2 linked regions of the Homo sapiens genome follow. The protein of the gene in region 1 purifies or fractionates together with the protein of each later gene. This does not show direct contact. Each region holds a gene or a part of one and is shown on either strand. Other genes may lie near its edges.

What was found. The genes of interacting proteins can lie anywhere in the genome.
Region 2: the proteins of EDNRB (region 1) and EXOC2 purify together in Homo sapiens (affinity purification with mass spectrometry; 2 studies listed by BioGRID and IntAct, with this or other methods). This does not show direct contact.

The regions. Positions count from the first base shown.
Region 1 is NC_000013.11:77,912,332-77,915,831, reverse strand, and holds part of EDNRB (endothelin receptor type B isoform 1 precursor), read left to right. Parts: intron 1-3,500. UniProt on the Homo sapiens protein: Non-specific receptor for endothelin 1, 2, and 3. Mediates its action by association with G proteins that activate a phosphatidylinositol-calcium second messenger system.
Region 2 is NC_000006.12:487,140-490,639, forward strand, and holds part of EXOC2 (exocyst complex component 2), read right to left. Parts: intron 1,900-3,500; coding exon 1,840-1,899; intron 1-1,839. UniProt on the Homo sapiens protein: Component of the exocyst complex involved in the docking of exocytic vesicles with fusion sites on the plasma membrane.

The DNA of each region.
Region 1 (3,500 bases):
CCAATGAGTCATTATAAATCTGTCCATCCATTAATCTACATGGGTCACAAACACATTCATCACATTACGTCCCATCACTAAGGTCATCATTATTGAATCCTACCTTGTGGCCTTAGGTTTAGCTTGAGACACAATATCATAATAATGGCTACCAGTTAATGATGCACTAGGCACTTGGTTTATTTCATTAAGTCACTATAACAACCCTGTAGAGGAGGTATCGTTATCATTCCTGCTTTAGATCTAGGCAAACTACTTGTCAGAGAGGTGAAGAAGTAACTTGCCTAATGTCATACCACTACAAAGTAATGAAACTGGGGCTTGAAAGCAGATCATCCAGCCCAAGACCCTGTGGTCCACCCCATCCCACTGCACAAAGCATGCTCAGGCACTGCATGGTCATCTCCAACCTTGAGTATTGTTTTAGGATCTCATTTGGGAGCATTTGGTGGAATTATGGCAAATAATATGCTATCCCACAGTAGAATACTTGGTAAACATTTTCAGAAATTAATTTGAGTCAGGATTTCGGTCTCTTGAAACCCCCTTCAGCTGGTCTGTAGTGTGTAATATCAGTGGAAGTTATTCTAATGGCTTAATTTACCAAAATATCAAATCCAGGACCAGTTAAAAGCCATTTATTCTCCTAAATAATTGTGGCAACGTAGTTTTTTTAATGCATTTAGAATTTCAGAGTAGTCAGGTATGATCATTCAGAAAAAAGTAATTTAAATGAGTTATGAAGGCTATATTTAATATATCCTAATATGAGAGGCTTAAATCTAAACCAGTGATTTCTAATTTTTTTGGTGGGGTTTTATAATTCTCTTTGAGAATTCAATATACACAATTTCTGGGGGTTTGTGAAATTCTCCTACTCTCTTGTTGGCACACTAAGGGCCCAGAGGCCCAGAAATGTCAATGTGAATCTATTCCATTAATCTAGAGTTTAATGAATATAGAGTTCAGTAAAGTTGACAAATCACAAAATGTCATAGCTCTTATTGGAAGCTACAGTCTTCAGGCTGTGGAATTGGTGGGACTTTATCTGGAGTTGCTGCAGTGGGAAGCTGAAAAGCATTGGGAAACATGTCTGATCTGCCTGGACTTCCTCAAGGAGCTGGGTCCCTGGAAACTTTTAGGAAGAATCATACCACTCTCACAGGTCTCCTGTGTTGTGGGTGAAATCCTGTGTTGAAGGCTAGGGAAGTGTCTGAGGACACTTAGCAAGTTGAGGCTGCTGAAGAACTTTAAACTCATGTAAACATGCAGAAAATAATAAGCGTTGCTTACGCTTCTCATAGGCACACACTAGGGCTATGCCTACATTACACAACACCAACCAGAAGAACAATGAAAACTTCAGGCATCCAAAGGAGATATTTATTTAAATATATATGCACGTGTACATGTACATACATTAAAATGTTAAGTTTTATAAGAATATATAAGTAAAAAGATGACTATCATTTGGCACAGGGCATGGCATATAGCAAGAAATGATAAATGTTATTAAAATGTGTGTATGTGTGTGTATGTGCGTTTTGAGTATTCTTTGTTTTCCAGCTTTTGTCGTGACAAACATGACTACAAACGACATGTTTGTACATATGGCTTTGCACACATGTGTGACTACATCTGAAGGGTAAATTTTTATAACTGGAATTATTAAATCAAAATGTGTGTGCATTGTAATTTTGAAAGATATTGCCATATTGTGCTAGAAAGTTATTCTTGTACTCTTGGTATTAATCACTATTTTATATAATATCTCAATATGGATGTAAATGCATATTAATGTTTATCTGTAATATGTATATGGGCCACCATGCTTAATATTTACATAGTCTACATATACATCAGAACCAAAAGCCAGTGCTTGACTACCTGACGTTAGGATGAATTTCTCCTTATTCACAAGCTACTTATTTTGCCCTTCCTATATATCCTAAAATAAATGGGGTAATCTAGATATTTGTTCACATGAGAGCCTGGTGTTCCACTACTAAGTTGTAGAAGCATAGATATCAAAGCTGGATAAAAAGCAAGACAGCCGGGTATACTTGGGGATGCTATCAATGTGTTTATGTTGTTGTTTGGTTGGTTAGTTGATTTGGCTTGGTTTGCTTTGGCAATGATATTTAACAAAACTTGGTTGTAGGTTGGGAGAAGTTAAAAATTCTTGAGCAAATAGTGAGTTCTTAAATTACTTCTGAATTTTATTAACTCTCTTTATGTTATATTTACATGGATAACTGAGTTAAAGAAGTTAGCTCTCAAATATAGCTTCCTTTATGTGTAAAGAAATTGCATTTAAAAACAAATCTACTTGCAAACTGATAAGACAAATACCAATATCCACATTAACTAGTTTGGTAAGGATCCAAAGGTAATCAGGTGTCCAGTGGTGATGGAGAGCTAGAAATTAGGCTGGTGACCCACTGGAGTGCTTCTAGATGGTTTTACAGTTAAGAACTGTAGGCTACTATTAGAGGCAAAGAGGCTGCATTCATAGTTCTGAAAGGCAAAACTGCTGATCTTTAACGTTTAACTAGTTAAGGGTGGGAACATATAACATTAAAATGCTGGTATGTCAAAATGCGGAATTGCTTCACTGAACCCACAAATGAGTTTCGAGTGAAGTGACCTTGGCAGGTAATCAGACATTTTCTGCTTGTGACACAATCAGGATTATCTTTCTGAACAAATTTACCTTTTGCACTATCCTCTTAGACTACTTCTGGTACTTAACAAGTTTATGTATAATTAACTAGTTTTGTAGTTAAAAGTAAAAGTTGATGGAACACCACCAACTTTTGAAGTTATAATTTTCCAGTCAGTAAACTGAAGTATATTCACATATTCCAATCAGTAAACTGAAGCATATGCATATATAGCAACACAAGAAGTAAGGGTATCATTGGGAGAGGAGTCTAATTTATCCCAGTTTAATAACAATGTTCTCATTTCCAGTCAAGTAACTGAAATATTTTAGTAATATTTAAAGATATTTTACCAGCATAAGCATTCTGAACCAAAAGTGGAACCTGTATGATTTATGTAAAGCAAAATAATTTTTAAGGAGCACCAATTAAGTGCATTTAAAGTATTAACTTTTAAAACGTGTTAATTAAAAGCCAGGCTTTTAGCTTGAATGACCTGGAATCAGTTAACAATACAGCAAATACCCTGACACCCATCTATCATAGTGGCTGCAACTGTCAATACTACACAAATGCTTCAGACAAATGATGTTATACAGAAGACATAAGAGTAGTGGGCTTTTTCCACTCATATTTTTACTGATGTCCAAATGAAAAAGAAAAAGAAAGCTTGATTCCTTCTGTATTAAAGTATTGTCATAGTCAGATAACAGGTTGATAGCAGAATTCAAATCAACCAGAAACTCAGACTTCATATTCCCAATTCACTGTTTCACATGTTGGTCATAGATTTCTGTGACAAAATGGTCAGTAAGCACTTGGCCTTGGGCAATGCAA
Region 2 (3,500 bases), on another chromosome or scaffold:
GGAGTGTAACAGGCTACAGCACGTGGCATGGCTGCACCCTTTCCCCTGCTGCCCCTCTAGTCAGCCTCTTCCCTAACCCCATCTCCCAGCAGCCACTGCTGACTTTCCCTTCCTCTCATTTTGTATTAACAGGTATTAGAGAGTGGGGAGCGAAAGCAGTGAGTTAACCACCAGGGCAAGCAGGGTTAGGGGCTAATTCCACTAGGCAAATCGCTTTGCTGCCTGATATCGCAATCTGTTTCCCCAACTGATGTGATACAGTCATCTAATTTTTTTTCTTTTTTTCAGATGGAGTTTTGCTCTGTCGCCCAGGCTGGAGTGCAGTGGCGCGATTTCGGCTCACTGCAACCTCCACCTCCCGGATTCAAGCAATTCTCCTGCCTCAGCCTCCTGAGTAGCTGAAACTACAGGTGCCCGCCACCACACCCGGCTAATTTTTGTATTTTTAGTAGAGACGGGGTTTTACCATGTTGGCCAGGATGGTCTTGATTTCCTGAAGTCGTGATCCGCCCACCTCAGCCTCCCAAAGTGCTGGGATTACAGGCATGAGCCACTGCGCCCGGCCCAAGTCATCTAATTTTTAAAGCTAGGAAGGATCTTAGAGTTTTCCTGGTTTGGATGCAGCAACCAAGAACTGGGTTTAACAGTACTGAGGTCAAGAGATTATTTCACGGTTTAACAATGTTCAATATTAGAATGCTATCCCCACAGCAAATCTAAAATATAGTCCTGACCTGGGGCCATTTCAGGGTGTGTATTGTTCGTGACACACTACCTTTTGAGCCCTGTTCCACATATGAAACGTAGCAGTGACTGTTTCAATCTTTTATCATATTTATTTTAAAGAAATGAACAGGGTTTGGAACCAATTCAAATAGAGGATGGAAGTTAGAGAAGCAGCAAGAAAAAGGAAGAAAGGGCTGATTGTGCAGGCACTGTCTGCACAGCTGCCATGTGCCCACGTGGGATGCGTGCGGGGCGGGGCGGCGATGCCCCCGGGGACTGATGGTGGAAGGGCTGGTCTGCTGCCTGCTCTGTGCGTCGATGCCATGTGACAGCTCCCCCCCATGGCCCAGCCTATGTGATCTCTCTGCCCTGCACTGAGTCTGCACTGCATTCACGGTGCCAGCATTTCAGTCAGTGCACCACATGTGCCTGTCTATGGGCCCGGCAGCCACGTGCAGGGCGGGTGGTGAAGGAATGAAGACTGCCTCAGCTCGGGGGAGCCTGGGCATTTATGAAATTTACCTGGCCTAGATTTTCTCTTAGGTCCGTTTCCTGTTCTATGAGTAGTAAAGTTTAAATTCAGGTTGAGATCATCAGTGTGGTCTAATGAAATATATATGTATATATAAAACTTTATTATGCCATATGTGCACATCTACTTTCATAACATTTTGTATTTTATAGAACACAAAATAAATACTACTGAATTACTCAAAAATTAAAAAAAAAATCACCGACTCCTGCATTTTACTATGCTGTCTTCTTTTTTCCATTACTTCTTATGTATGCTACTAATACAGTTTACTGAATAAGTCATAGATAGCTTTCTTAAGACCTTTTCTATACCAGTCACTTGAAACGAGAGCCAACTTCTAAATTCTCCTAAACCCAGAAGAAAGGTCTTACCTTATTCTGTCACTCAGAAGACATGCAAGTTACAGGTGACGAGATGTACCTACTAACGCTATTAAGTAGGTATATCTGCTTATTCTGATTCTTATTTGGATTCTGCTCTTCCTAGAATCCAAATCATTATTTTTAAAAGGTATTTTAGGAAACAAAACCTTGTTGAGCACATTCAACTGGCTCCTAAGAACAGCACACAGGACTTACTTTTTATCTGCTCCACTGGAAAGCTGGGGCAGGGCTTCCAAAGCCTGCTTAAAACTTGACCTGAAACACAAACAGCCACACTGAAGTTGAAGCCTTGCACAGGAGAACTGCTGACAAATTCTTAAGCATCCCTTAATTATTGAGAAGCCAATAAAAGCCAGTGAAGCAAGGAAATATGAGAAAAAGTAAAAGTGAAAAACAATAGAAAAAGTAAAAGTAAAAGCGAAGGTGTAGCTACCAGGTGGAGGCTTTGTAGCAACGGGGTCAGAAAAACTCAAATAGGAAATGAAACGCTACTTGAAAAGCTAAAGGAAAAACATCTTCGAAAGGATGCTAGTGATAGAGGAGAGCTTAATGTGAACATGTTTAATTTAAAAGGAGTCTTTTCAAAACAAGCAGCTGGGGATAATCCAGTTACTCTAAGAAATGGGGATGACCTTCTGAAAGATGACACAGTGGGGTGTTTACAGTATTTGGCCTGCACAGGGCCTGATCTACAGCCAATGTCTTGTAATAATTACAGTCTACTTAAAACTTGTAGAAAAATGGAGAGCTATATAGATGCTTTAAAAATTCAATGTAAGTTCTTTACATGAAGGTAAAAGGAAAGAATTTTAAAAAGAAAACTGTGGGATGTTTAGCTTTTACAAGGAGAAAGTATTAGAAAAATTACCAAACCAAATGAAAAGCATCATAGGGGAGACTGTGGTAATTAACTTGTACCATTCACAAAGGAACAGTTCTTTTATCTCTCTTATGATTGGTTAAGGTGAAGAAATACTGCAATTCTTGACTTTAGGGGGTCGTTGCTTTTATATTGTAAAAACATCCTCAATCTACCAGGAAATACGTTTTTGAGCAATATTCCTCAAATCAGGGGCAAGTGTCACAGCAACAGAGAGAAAGACTGAAAAGTTCCAACAGAGTCATAAAACCCGGTGCTGGGCATCTCCAGCTGCTCCCGGGAGGGCGCGGTGGGGTGTGGGACGGGTGGCTTGGCGCACTCGGGTCCCTTCCCACATTCAGCGGCCTCTTTCCTGGTGTGGAAGCCACTGCCGCTACCTCCACCATCAGCTTGTTTCTTATGAACCTCTTTTTGATTAATTGAAAGAAATGTGATGTAATTGTTTTGACAGTATGACAATAATGATAAACATACTACATATTATTGGCAGGGTACTGAAAATTAAAAAGTGATTTGGCACATTTTCTCATTTAACACCCTCAAAAGCTTGCCTAGAATATTTTAAACTTCCTCTATAGATGAGTACCTTATACTCTAAAACTAAGTCAGCAGGAAGAGGGTAGGCATTTGCATGAAGTGTGCACACATCCAACATGGGCTGGGTGCTTTCCATCCTGTTAGTATGTTGTACAGACAAACGATGGCTGGGAAAAGGTGTGGCTCAACAGTGAACATGGCCCACTAAAAATGGCTGCTGGTGAGCTGTGACCGACGGGAATGAAAGGCTAACTTCATTGGTTAGGAAAAAATGGAAAACGTATTTTCAGTTGCAAAGCTGACAGAATGACAGCAAGCCATGTTATCAGATGCTGGAAATGAGTGAGTAAGCATATTACAGTGTCCTCAAACATTTCATTTGCATACGACTTGGCTTCTCAGGCACATCAACACTATAACCCAGTATTTCCTAGGTAAT